2 separate regions of the Homo sapiens genome follow, and region 2 is linked to region 1. A link means that fine-mapping ties the variant in region 1 to the expression of a gene that starts in the linked region. Tissue or cell type: whole blood. Region 1 holds a variant in brackets; the other region holds the start of a gene. All regions are shown on one strand. Distances are from middle to middle.

Evidence for each region. PIP is the estimated chance that this variant, and not a neighbour inherited with it, causes the effect.
Region 2: AQP11 starts here. The variant in region 1 is fine-mapped to the expression of AQP11 in whole blood (INTERVAL, PIP above 0.99).

The regions. Positions count from the first base shown.
Region 1 is chr11:78,080,273-78,088,235 of GRCh38, forward strand. LOC105369401 (a long non-coding RNA gene) reads left to right here and starts at 923. Exons shown (of 3, transcript XR_950342.2): 1 at 923-1,169; 2 at 3,058-3,260; 3 at 5,348-6,723. The variant G/A (reference allele first, on the strand shown) is at 4,547.
Region 2 is chr11:77,587,232-77,593,444 of GRCh38, forward strand. It overlaps AQP11 (aquaporin 11), which reads left to right and starts at 2,722. Exons shown (of 3, transcript NM_173039.3): 1 at 2,722-3,380. The coding sequence starts at 2,762. RefSeq lists a silencer at 2,069-2,698.

The DNA.
Region 1 (7,963 bases):
GCCTAAAATTAAGGTCTGGCCAGCAACAAAAGAATTTAGAGAAGCCCAGGACTGGATCGTTTTAGTCTATTGTTGAAATTCAGATTCGGAGGCAGCACCCTAAAATGTTTCACCTCTGGGTCTTCACGTCGTTACACATGGCTGAGTGAGGAGGTGTTCCCTAAAGGTTTGAGTAATGAGGCCAGGCGCCGTCACTCACGCCTGTAATCCCATCACTTTGGGAGGCTGAAGTGAGCGGATCACTTCAGGAGTTCAAGACCAGCTTGGCCAACATGGTGAAATCCCATCTCTACGAAAAATACAAAAAATTAGCTGGGCGTGGTGGCGGGTGCCTGTAGTCCCAGCTACTGGGAAGGCTGAGGCAGCATAATCGGCTGCTCGGGAAGCTGAGGGGGGAGAATCGCTTGAACCTGGGAGGTGGAGGTTGCAGTGAGCCGAGATCGCACCATTGCATTCCAGCCTGGTCAACAAGAGCGAAACTTCGTCTCAAAAAGAAAAAAAAAAAGGTTTGAGTAATGAAAGAAGGAATTTATAATTCTGTTAAGCAATTTTCCAGTCTCTGCTGTCAGGCCTCTCAGCCGAAGCTCAACCATTGTAACCCCTGTGACTTGCACATATGCGTCCAGATGGCCTGCGGGAGCCAAGAAGTCTGGGGCAGCCAAAAACCCACAAAAGAAGTAAAACAGCCACTTCCTGCCTTAACTGATTAACAAACATTCCACCATTGTGACTGGTCCCTGCCCTACCTTAACTGATCAACCATCCTTGTGACATTCTTCTTCTGGACAATAAGTCTTATGATCTCCCCATCATGTACCTTGTGACCCCCTCCCCTGCTAACAATAGATAACAACCACCTTTTACTGTAATTTTCCATTACCTACCTAAATCCTATAAAGCAACCCCTTCCCCATCTCCCTTCATTGATTCTCTTTTCGGACTCAGCCCACTTGCACCCAAGTGAATAAACAGCCTTGTTGCTCACACAAAGCCTGTTGGTGGTCTCTTCACACGGATGCATTTGACATTTGGTGCTATGACTTGGATCGGGGGACCTTCCTTGGGAGATCAATCCCCTGTCCTCCCGCTCTTTGCTCCGTGAGGAAGATCTACCTACGACCTCGGGTCCTCAGACCAGCCCAAGGAACATCTCACCAATTTTAAATCGGGTAAGTGGCCTCTTTCTACTCTCTTCTTCAACCTCTTTCACTATCCCTCAACCTCTTTCTCCTTTCAATTTCGGCACCACCCTTCAGTCTCTCCCTTCCCTTAATTTCGGTTCCTTTCCCTGTCTGGTAGAGACAGAGGAGACCCGTTTTATCTGTGGACCCAAAACTCTGGCGCTGGTCATGGACTCGGGAAGACTGTCTTCCCTTGTGTTTAGTCACTGCAGGGACGCCTGCCTGATTATTCACCCACATTTCAGAGGTGTTCGATCACTGCGGGGACACCTGTTTTGATCTTCCACCTTGGTGGCAAGTACCACTTCCCCTGGGTGGCAAGTACCACCCCCCCTCTCTCCATGTCTCAACCTCCTCCTTTCTCTAAACTTACCTTTTTACTATGGGCAACCTTCAGCCCTCCATTCCTTCTTCTTCCTCTCTTAGCCTGTGTTCTTAAAAACTTAAAACCTCTTCAACTCTCACCTGACCTAAAACCTAAGTGTCTTATTTTCTTCTGCAACACCACTTGGCCCCAATACAAACTTGATAATGGCTCTAAATGGCCAGAAAAGAGCACTTTCGATTTCTCCAGCCTACAAGATCTAGATAATTTTTGTCATAAAATGGGCAAATGGTCTGAGGTGCCCTACATCCAGGCATTTTTTACACTTCGTTCCTTCCCTAATCTCTGTTCCCAGTGCGACTTGCCGCAAATCTTCCTTCTTTCCCTCCCGCCTGTCCCTTCAGTCCCAACCTGAAGTGCCGGTGAGTCTTTTGAATATTTCTTTTCTACCGACCCATCTGACTTCTACCCTCCTCCCTAGACTGCTCCTCCTCAGGTCGCTCCCCACCAGGCTGAATCAGCTTCCAACTCTTCCTCAGCCTCCACTTCCCCACCCTACAACCCTTCTATCATCTCCCCTCCCCACACCTGGTCCAGCTTACAATTTCGTTCTGCGGCAAATACTCCCCCACCTGCCCAATAATTTCCTCTTCAAGAAGTGGCTGGAACTGAGGGCATCGTCAGAGTGCATGTACCATTTTCTCTATCAGACCTTTCCCAAATTAATCAACACTTAGGCTCCTTCTCGTCAGACCCCACCAAATATATACATGAATTCCAGTATTTAACCCAGTCTTACAATTTAACCTGGAGTGGCTTAAATGTCATCCTAATTTCTACCCTCTCCCCAGATGAATGGGAAAGAGTGTTTCCTCTAGCCTAGTCCCACACAGACACCCACTGGCATTATGAGCCAGGCCTCCAGGAAGGTATTACAGACGGTTCCCTGAGAAGATCCCCAGTGGCACTATCAGGCAGGTTCCTCAGGTATAGCTAGGTGAGATTACATGATTTCCTGCCTAGTTGAAGGGCTTAAAAAGGCAGCATACAAATCTGTTAATTATGACAAACTTAAAGAAACTACCCAAGGTAAAGATGAAGACCCAGCCCAGTTCATGGCCTGTTTGGTGGCTACCCTTAGATGCTTTATAGCCCTAGACCCTGAAGGGCCAGAAGGCTGTCTTATTCTTGATATGCATTTCATCACCCAGTCAGCTCCTGACATCAGAAAAAAGCTTCAAAAATTTGAATCTGGCCCTCAAACCCCACAACAGGAATTAATCAACCTCGCCTTCAATGTGTACAATAATAGAGAAGAGGCAGCCAAGCAGAAACACATTTCTGAGTTACAATTACTTGCCTCTGCTGTGAGACAAAACCCAGCTGCACCTCCGGCACACAAGAACTTCAAAATGCCTAAGCTGCAGTGGTCAGGCTTTCCTACAGGACCTCCTCCCTCAGGATCTTGCTTCAAGTGCCAGAAATCTGGCCAGTGGGCCAAGGAATGCCTGCAGCCCAGGATTCCTCCCAAGCCATGTTCCATCTGTGCAGTGACCCACTGGAAATCAGACCGCCCAGCTCACCCGGCAGCCACTTCCAGAGCCCAGCCCCTAAAGCTCTGGCCCAAGGGTCTCTGACTGACTCCTTACCAGACCTGCTCAGCTTAGTGGCTGAAGACTGACGCTGCCCAATCACCTTGGAAGCCCCCTGGACCATCATGGATGCCAAGCTTCGGGTAACTTTCACAGTGGAGGGTAAGTCTGTCCCCTTTTTAATCGATACAGGGGCTACCCACTCCACATTACCTTATTTTCAAGGACCTGTTTCCCTTGCCCACATAACCATTGTGGGTATTGACAGCCAGGCTTCTAAACCTCTTAAAACTCCCCAACTTTGGTGACAACTTGTACAACATTCTTTTATGCACTCCTTTTTAGTTATTCCCACCTGCTCAGTTCCCTTATTAGGTTGAGATGTTTTAACAAAATTATCCACCACCCTGACTATTCCTGGACGACAGCCACATCTCATTGCCACCCTTCTTCCCAACCCAAAGCCTCCTTCACTTCTTCCTCTTGTATCCCCCCACCTTAACCCACAAGTATGGGATACCTCTACTCCCTCCCTAGCAACCGATCACACACCCATTACTATCCTATTAAAACCTAATCACTCTTACCCCCCTCAGTGCCAGTGTCCCATCCCACAACAGACTTTAAAGGGACTAAAGCCTATTATCTCTCGTCTGCTACAGTATGGGCTTCTAAAGCCTCCAAACTCTCCTTACAATTCCCCCATTTTACCTGTCCAAAAACCGGACAAGTATTACAAGTTAATTCAGGATCTGTGCCTTATCAACCAAATTGTTTTGCCTATCCACTCTGTGGTGCCCAACCCGTACACTCTTTTGTCCTCAATACCTTCCTCCACAACTATTCCGTTCTTGATCTTAAAGATGCTTTTTTCACTATTCCCCTGCACCCCTCGTCCCAGCCCTCTTTGCTTTTACCTGGATTGACCCTGACACCCATCAGTCCCAGCAACTTACCTGGGCTGTACTGCCACGAGGCTTCAGGGACAGCCCTCATTCCTTCAGCCAAGCTCTTTCTCATGATTTACTTTCTTTCCACCCCTCTGCTTCTCACCTTATTCAATATATTGATGACCTTCTACTTTGTAGCCCCTCCTTTAAATCTTCTCAACAAGACACCCTCCTGCTCCTTCAACATTTATTCTCGAAACCATTATATAAACTCAGAAAGGGAAACCTAGCCAACCCCACAGATCCTAAATCCTTTCCCCACTCCTCTTTCCATTCCTTGAAAACAGCTCTAGAAACTGCTACCACACTAGCTCTCCCTGACTCATCCCAACCCTTTTCATTACACACAGCTGAAGTACAGGGCTGTGTGGTCGGAATTCTTACACAAGGACCGGGACCGCGCCCTGTAGCCTTTTTGTCTGAACAACTTGACCTTACTGTTTTAGGCTGGCCCTCATGTTTGCGTGTGGCAGCTGCCACCGCTCTAATACTTTTAGA[G/A]GCCCTTAAAATCGCAAACTATGCTCAACTCACTCTCTACAGTTCTCATAACTTTCAAAATCTATTTTCTTCCTCAAACCTGATGCATATACTTTCTGCCCCTCCAGCTCCTTCAGCTATACTCACTCTTTGTTGAGTCTCCCATAATTACCATTGTTCCTGGCCCAGACTTCAATCCGGCCTCCCACATTATTCCTGATACCACACCTGACCCCCATGACTGTATCTCTCTGACCTACCTGGCATTTCAACTTCTGTCACAACCTTCCATTGTCTTTCTAATGACTTTCCTGCTAGCATTACAGATATATCACAAACTTTATCAGTCCTTCGGGCCCAGGTCGGTTCCTTAGTCGCAGTTGTCCTCCAAAATCACCAAGGCCTTGACCTACTCACTGCTGAAAAAGGAGAACTCTGCATATTTTTAAATGAAGAATGTTGTTTTTATCTAAATCAATCCAGCCTGCTATATGACAACATAAAAAAGCTTAAAGTTAGGGCCCCAAAACTCGCCAGCCAGGCAAATAATTATGCTGGACCTACCTGGGCACTTTTTAACTGGGCGTCTTGGCTCCTTCCTACTCTTAGTCCCCTGGTACCTGTTTTTCTCCTTCTCTTATTTGGGCCTTTTGTCTTTCATTTAGTCCCTCAATTCACACAAAACCGCATCCAGGCCATCACCAATCATTCCATACTGCAGTTGCTGCTTCTAACAACCCCATGGTACTATCCGGTGCCCCAAAATCTCCCCACAGCCTAAACTTCTATTCCTCGTCCTATTATACTCCTTCTCACCTTTAGGACTAAACCAGTGATGAACTCCTGGCAACATCCAGACAAGACCAAGCTTCTGTGCAACACCCCCTCCAAACGGCTGTCCAAACATACTTCCAGGCCTGCTTCACCCGTTCCTCTAAACCATAATCTCTGAGGACCTGCTGTCTATAAAAACAACTTCCTTCAGGCCTTGTCCTCCAAAATGTTCCCCACCCCCAAAATCAAAGACCTCTGAATTAAAAATCTAAAATGCCTGGGGTGGCAGCTGTCAAATCCTTGCCCATGGGGTCCTCAGGCCTACTCATATAGAAATGACCAGCAATATGCATATAGAGGACCAGTTCCACATATCTGGCACTCAGGTCAACATCCAGGACGACACATGGTCTGTCATTGGTTATTAGAAGGCCTAGGACATTTCTCTCTTTGCCAGCCCCAACTTATTCCAGGAGACAGGGACTATTGTACTTACTGTCTTTCCTGTATAGGGTCTGCAGTAAGGACTATTGAACTCCTCCATTCAAAACACCACTCACACCTTTGGGAAAAAAGTAACATAATAGACTTTTGGCTCGATGCCAGGGGATCCTATTCATATGATGGCAAATGGGGACAAAAGGCCTTGGTATATAAAACGTTATTCCTACCTTGGCCTAAAAACTCACTGCCACCTACCTTAAAGCTATTATGCTTAATTGCTATTTTTAGATAATTTATTCTACTAGGAGAATTCCAAGCTCAAAAATATGCTAACTGGTGCCTTGTTAGCCACACAAAATTGTACCCGAAAACTTTCTAGACCAACTCACTATAAAATTAAATTTTCTTTAGGTGTCCATGCTGCCCCTAAGTCATGCCTGAAGCAGCCCTGAGAAACATCGCCCCTGCCCCAATAATCCCCAGTAAAAACTTATATTTTCTTTATCTTTTCTTATAACTTTATATTTTATAAATAAAAAGACAGGAATGTCAGGCCTCTGCGCCGAAGCTCAGCCATTGTAACCCCTGTGACTTGCACATATGTGTCCAGATGGCCTGCAGGAGCCAAGAAGTCTGGGGCAGCTGAAAAACCACAAAAGAAGTAAAACAGCCAGTTCCTGCCTTAACAGATTAACCAACATTCCACCATTCCACCATTGTGACTGGTCCCTGCCCTACCTTAATGGATCGATTGACCTTGTGACATTCTTCTTCTGGACAATGAGTCTTATGATCTCCCTACCATGTACCTTGTGACCCCCCTCCTCTGCTAACAATAGATAACCACCTTTTAGTGTAATTTTCCATTACCTACCCAACTCCTATAGGGCAACCCCTTCCCCATCTCCCTTCGCTGACTCTCTTTTCAGACTCAGCCCACTTGCACCCAAGTGAATAAACAGCCTTGTTGCTCACACAAAGCCTGTTGGTGGCGTCTTCACACAGACATGCGTGACATCTGCTCACCCACCTCTAATACTGCAGATTGAACAGTTCCCTTTGGAAAGCCCTTCCTGATGTTGAGCTAAAATGTCTTCCTGTCATGTCCATTCATTAGTAGAATAAACATTTTATCCAAATGAGGCTGATTAAACCAGAGGTTTATGCAAAGGTGTATGCATCAAAGATAGTGATTTCCTGAGTGGAAGAATTAAATACCAGCTAAGAGTGATTACATAAAGCATGGACCTTTTATCTCTATAGAAAAAACGCTACCTGACAATATTTCAAGTTAGAATTTTGCTTTTCTTTTTCTCAAGTCAGGGTCTCATTCTGTCACACAGACTGGAGTGCAGTGGTGCGATCATGCTGGCTAATTTTTAAATTTTTTGTAGACAGGGTCTGCTATGTTGCCCAGGTTGGTCTAGAGCTCCTGGGCTCAAGGGATCCTCCTACCTTGGCCTCCCAAAGTGCTGGGATTACAGGCATGAGGCACCTCGCCCAGCCCAAATTAGGATTTTTCTGGAGTGTATATTAGCACTTTCCTGAAAGGCAGCAAATGTTTCAAAAGTTCACACCCTTTAACTCAATAATTACACATCTAGGAATCTTATTCTCTGAAAATAGTATAGCATGGAAAACGTTTTTTGCACAAATTTTTGTTTTTTTAACCACAGTGTTTCTTTTAAAATGTTATTAAAAGAATAAAAACAACCAAAAATGTTCCTCAGAAGCAATATGTAAATTCTGAATACCAGATAAACTACTAGGCAAGCATCTAAAATAAAGTTTACAGATTTTCTTAAAACATGATGAAATACTTGTGTATTCAATGGATATTCCAAGGCTCAGCTTCTATAAAAAAAATCTAACTCTGAGTAAGGGGATCCATAACAGAAGCCTAGCCCACTGCTCCTCAACACATAACCCCCACAATCTTCTGGGCCTGTTTTTTTATGAGACAGAGGTTCACTTTGTCGCCCAGGTTGGAGTGCAGTGGCGCGATGTCAGCTAACTGCAACTTCTGCCTCCCTGGTTCAAGCAATTCTCTTGCCTCAGCCTCCCCAGTAGCTGGGATTACAGGTGTGTGCCACCATGTCCTGCTAATTTTTGTATTTTTAGTAAAGATGGGGTTTCGCCCTGTTGGCCAGGCTGTTCTCAAACTCCTGACCTCAAGTGATCTGCCCACCTCGGCTTCCCAAAGTGCTGGGATTACAGGCG
Region 2 (6,213 bases), 490 kb before region 1:
TTGTTTCTGAAAATAGGAAGGTTGATTTGATGCAAAATATCCAATCAGTAGTAATTAATTATGTTAATTTTGCCCTTGTTCTTTAATTTAAAAAATGTCCAAAGTCCTTTTAATGACAATATGTATTACCACGATACTAAAATTTCTTACCAAAGTCCAAAACACTGGTTTTCTACATGACTCTTCCGGGTAAAAGTGAATTATCAGCAGAGCAGTAAATAAAATACATTCACATTAATCCTCAAGTGACTTCAAGTCTAGGGGAGCACTGAAAGGGTTACATTCATAGGATTGATTTAAAGGCAACTTCTTTAAACAGCAGTGACTTAAAAGTAATTCTAATTGCCGGGCGCGGTGGCTCACGCCTGTAATCCCAGCACTTTGGGAGGCCGAGGCGGGCAGATCACAAGGTCAGGAGATCAAGATCATCCTGGCTAACACAGTGAAACGCCATCTCTGCTAAAAAATACAAAAAAAAAAAAAAAAAAAAAAAAAAAAAAAAAAAAAAAGCCAGGTGTGGTGGCAGGCGCCTGTAGTCCCAGCTACTCGGGAGGCTGAGGCAGGAGAATGGCGTGAACCCGGGAGCAGAAGTTGCAGTGAGCTGAGATCACGCCATTACACTCCAGTCTGGGAGACAGAGCGAGACTCTGTCTTAAAAAAATAATAATAATAAATAATTCTAATTTAAATTCTTTCTGGCCAGGCAATCAACACAGGAAAGAGAAAAGGTCTTGATTTTCTACTAGTTTGTGTCTTGTGAAAGAATTTTTTTTTTTTTTAGACGAAGTCTCACTCTGTTGCTCAAACTGGAGTGCAGTGGCACTGTCTTGGCTCACTGCAACCTCCACCTCCCGGGTTCAAGGGATTCTCTTGCCTCAGCCTCCCGAGTAGCTGGGACTACATGTGCGCACCACCATGCCCAGCTAATTTTTGTATTTCTAGTAGAGACGGGGTTTCACTATGTTGGCCAGGCTGGTCTTGAACTCCTGACCTCGTTATCCGCCTGCCTCGGACTCCCAAAGTGCTGCACCTACAATGGGCCACCCCAGGGGACAAGCTGTTGGGACTGGAATGCGGTGGCAAGAGCCGTGCACTCTGGCTGCTGAAACCTGCTGTTTCCACTGTAAGCTACCACTTAGTGAATATTTTCTACGTATTGGGAACTGTACTAAGTGGCTTTCATGTTTTGTTTTTTGTTTGTTTGACTGGTTTGTTGTTGTTGTTGTTGTTGTTGTTGTTGTTTTTGAGACGGAGTTTCGCTCTTGTTGCCCAGGCTGGAGTACAATGGCGCGATCTAGGCTCACCACAACCTCTGCCTCCCGGGTTCAAGCGATTCTCCTGCATCATCCTCCCGAGTAGCTGGGATGACAGGCATGCGCCACCATGCCCGGCTAATTTTGTATTTTTAGTAGAGACGGGGGTTTCTCATGTTGGTCAGGCTAGTCTCGAACTCCCGACCTCCGGTGATCCGCCCGCCTCGGCCTCCCAAAGTGCTGGGATTATAGGCGTGAGCCACCGCGCCCAGCCGCGCCCGGTTTTTGTTGTTGTTTTTGTTTCTAAAAACAGCGTCTCGCTCTGTGGCCCAGGCAGGGGTGCAGTGGCGCGATCTCAGCTCACTGCAGCCTGGAACTCCTGGGGTCAAGCGGTCTTCCCACCTAAGCCTCTCCGTGCTGGGACTCCGGACGCGCTCCACCTCACGCAGCCGTATTCCTGCTTTCAAAGCAGATGGAAGAGGTGCGCCAGGACCCCCAGTTCTTGGAAACAGACCTCTCCAGTTACCTGTTGTTTCCTCTTCACGAAGAGTGCATGTAACAGTAAGACACAACTGTTTCATATTATACGTAAAGAGTTCATGCCAAAGGTTATAGACAGTCACATGCTAAAACTAGGCTACACTTTGAAGAATCACCGCTCAAGTTCTGGAAAAAAGAGGTGACTGTTGAACAACACTGTGAGGGTAATCGATGCCACTGAAATATACACTTAAATTGATTAAAGTGGCGAATTTTATCTGGCATATATTACCACCATTTTTAGAAATGTTTTTTGGCAGGTGAAGAAAAGCAAGGCTCCAGGAGGCCCTGCGCACCGGTCTACGCCCACTAACTCACCCGCCCCCTGCGCCGCGTCTCCCCTCTCAATTTCAGTCGCCCATTGATAAAAACGAGGTGGCTATGTGAGATGGCCTTCAGCGGTCTTTCCAGCTCCACGGTTTTACAGTGTGGAGCGGGGAAAGAAAAACTCTAAGGTCCTCGCTGCAAAGCAACCATCAGAGCTCCGCCGCGCCGTGCCGCTCCTCTCCGCCCCGTGGTCCGGGTGTCACCGCCCGCAGGGGCGCAAGGGCCGCAGCACGCGTGCGCAGTGGGCACCAAGAGCGCTGCGTCGACCGCGCCGCGCCGGCCCTCCGCCGCCGCGCCCGCCTACAAGGCCCTGAGGGAGACTGCGGAGGGTGAGTGCGCGGTGGGCTCGGCTGACCGTTGGCCCTGCGGCCGGCGCCCTAGGCTACCTCCCTTCGCCTCCCCGCGCCTCCCCGCGCCTCCCCGCCTCCCCGCCTCCCCGCCTCCTCGGCTCTGGTTCCAACACCCCAGCGCCAAGCCGGGGAGGCGGGGAGGACTTCTTAAGTGTGCCGCTCGGGAGCCTCCCGCTCGTCCCGCCCCGAGGGGCGTGAGGAGGGGAGGGGCTGCGGACTTCGGACTCGGGCCTGGAGACCGCCTCCTACCCAGAGCCGGAGCCCGCAACCCGCTCAGGCGGCGACGGAGCCATGTCGCCGCTGCTGGGGCTCCGGTCCGAGCTGCAGGACACCTGCACCTCGCTGGGACTGATGCTGTCGGTGGTGCTGCTCATGGGGCTGGCCCGCGTAGTCGCCCGGCAGCAGCTGCACAGGCCGGTGGCCCACGCCTTCGTCCTGGAGTTTCTAGCCACCTTCCAGCTCTGCTGCTGCACCCACGAGCTGCAACTGCTGAGCGAACAGCACCCCGCGCACCCCACCTGGACGCTGACGCTCGTCTACTTCTTCTCGCTTGTGCATGGCCTGACTCTGGTGGGCACGTCCAGCAACCCGTGCGGCGTGATGATGCAGATGATGCTGGGGGGCATGTCCCCCGAGACGGGTGCGGTGAGGCTATTGGCTCAGCTGGTTAGTGCCCTGTGCAGCAGGTACTGCACAAGCGCCTTGTGGAGCTTGGGTCTGACCCAGTATCACGTCAGCGAGAGGAGCTTCGCTTGCAAGAATCCCATCCGAGTCGACTTGCTCAAAGCGGTCATCACAGAGGCCGTCTGCTCCTTTCTCTTCCACAGCGCTCTGCTGCACTTCCAGGAAGTCCGAACCAAGCTTCGTATCCACCTGCTGGCTGCACTCATCACCTTTTTGGTCTATGCAGGTTTGTCATTCTCACCAAATACTTGGCACTTCCAGAGCCTCTATGACATGAGGCTGTAAGTTCTTTACTAAAATACATTTGAAACCGTCTATCCCGCTATGATGTAAATGCTGGTATCCCCGTTATTCTAACCATTTTGCAGCCCGTTCTTAACCAGTAGGGCCGACACGTAGAGCCTTCATGCAGTGCTGCTTTGAACACCCAGAGAAAGGAGCCACCTCTGTGCTGAAACTGAGATACTGTGAGATATTGCCAAGGGTTCAGATATCCTACAAAGGGATTGTTTTAATGGTAGAAAGGAAAGATAACTTATTAACTGCCTCTTTCTTCATGCCAAGGTGGTATAGATCGTTTCGGATACTCTTACTGAAAAATGATCCTGGCTTTACAAAGTTCCTTTCGATTTAAAGCACAAGGCACATGATTGGTTAGTATAAGAGCGGAGGGTAGAAATTTTGTAGTTCCATTTTAGTCCTATAAATGATTTAAAGTCATTTCTTATTTCCTTAATAATTCATTTTGAGTTATGAAATTTCTTATTTCCTTAATAATTCATTTTGAGTTATACATGAACTTTTAAGTGACCTATTAAGAAAAATGTTTAAATGATAACTTGCTTCAAATTAAAGATGCTTTTTAAAATATAACTCTTGAGAAATCTGTTGATTTCTTTTAAACCATTTGTTTACTTTGACAGATCTCAGATGCAGTGGGCAATCTAGTCCTAAGTGGGAGGAGGAAATCCAAAACACAAGTATTTAATGATGAAATGTGTCATTTTAAATGATTACAACAGAATATCTTTATTGGGACTACATCTAAATTATAAAAGACTGTGGAGGCAGAAATAACAACAAAGGAAATTTGTGGTAATAATCTTCTGCCCATTAAAAGTGAAACAATGACTAGAAGCAAACTTCAAGATAAGGACTCCTAAACACGTACTTGACCTTCTAGGGTAAAAATGAAAGCCTTCAGCCGGGCGCGGTGGCTCACGCCTGTAATCCCAGCACTTTGGGAGACCGAGGTGGGTGGATCACCTGAGGTCAGGAGTTTGAGACCAGCCTCGCCAACATGGTGAAACCCCGTCTCTACTAAAAATACAAAAAAAATTTAGCCAGGCATGGTGGTGGGCGCCTGTAATCTCAGCTACTCGGGAATCTGAGGCGGGAGAATTGCTGGAACCCGGGAGGCGGAGGTTGCAGTGAGCTGAGATCGCGCCATTTTACTCCAGCCCAGGCGACAACAGTGAGACTCTGTCTCAAAAAAAAGAAAGAAAGCAAGCCTTCCCAATCAATTTCCCCTTCTTTAGGTCTAGTACCACTTTTTAAGTAGACATAAATGGAAATAAGTGGTATAGAAGAGTGAAGGGGGCCGGGCACGGTGGCTCACACCTGTCATCCCAACACTTTGGGAGGCCAAGGCAGGTGGATCGCTTGAGCCCAGGCGTTCGAGACTAGCCTGGGCAACATAAGAGAAATCCCATCTCTCCAAAAAATACAAAAATTAGCCGGGCGTGCTGGTGCGCACTTGTAGTCCCAACTACTTGGGAGGCTAAGGTGGGAGGATCACCCAAGTCCAGGAGGTTGAGATTGTGGTGAGCTGTGATAGTGCCACTGCACTCCAGCCTGGGTTATAGAGACCCTGTCTGTCTCAAAAGAAAAAAAAAAAGAAAAAGAGAAAAAGAGTGACAAGTACAGGCATATTTGAGGGATTGGTGGGTAGTTGCTTATTTATTGAAGTTTTAGATTTTAGCTAAAGCAGAAACATCCCCTGTATATGAACAGAATTGTCACTGCAAAAAGAGTTATGCTATGGTTTAGCTCTTTATTTCTACAATTAAAAGCAGTAAAAACTTAAAAAAGAATTTTTACATCAATAGAACATTAACTACAGTTGGATTTTTCAATACCTATGTTCCTCTTCCCTCTCTTGATTAACCTGAAGTTGATATTCTTTCTGTCTACTTTTAATACATATTTATGATTCCATAGATAATACTGTATATATTAGCCATTCCCTATTTTATCAGTGACAAAAAATTTGAGAGAAGAGACACAGATAATACTTGGAGTTATAGATCCAGTCATAGATATAAGGAAAGTTATTAGAAGTATCTATAAAATATCAACAGATCAAAAACACTGCCCTTTTTTTCTTGAAATGAGGGTACTAATTGATGGGGGAGAGGGAGAGTATAAAGGGAACACTAGAGCAGTGTTTCTCTCTGTATTAAAATCACCTGGGGAGCTCTTTAAACGTCCTTGTTCTGGGCCCACAGATTAAAATCCAATTGCTCTGGCAAGGGGCCTAGGCAGCGGTGTATTGTAAAGCTTCACAGGTGATCCCATTATGAAACCAAGGTAAAGAAGCACTGCTTTAGGAGTCTAGACCTGCACTGTGCAATTCAGTAGCCACTAGCTGCATGTGGCTGTTTACACTTAAATTAACTGAAATTAGATTCAGAGTAGCCACATTTCAAGTGGTCAGTTGTCAAATTGTGCTGTAGCTAGTGGGTACAGGATTGGACAGTGCTAGAGTCTGTTTGCATGGGTAGAACAAAATAGACAATTGTTGATTACTATTAGTTACAGAAATTTATAATGCAGTATGATCTTCCCTTTGTTTGTTTTCTGCCAATATAAGGGAGATAAGAATATTCAGTTGTCAGCTGTTATAGGCCAAGCATTTTGCAAGGAAATTTATGAGAGTTATCTTAATTAATTCTTACAACAACCCATCGGCCGGGCGCGGTGGCTCACGCCTGTAATCCCAGCACTTTGGGAGGCCGAGGCGGGCAGATCACGAGGTCAGGTGATCGAGACTATCCTGG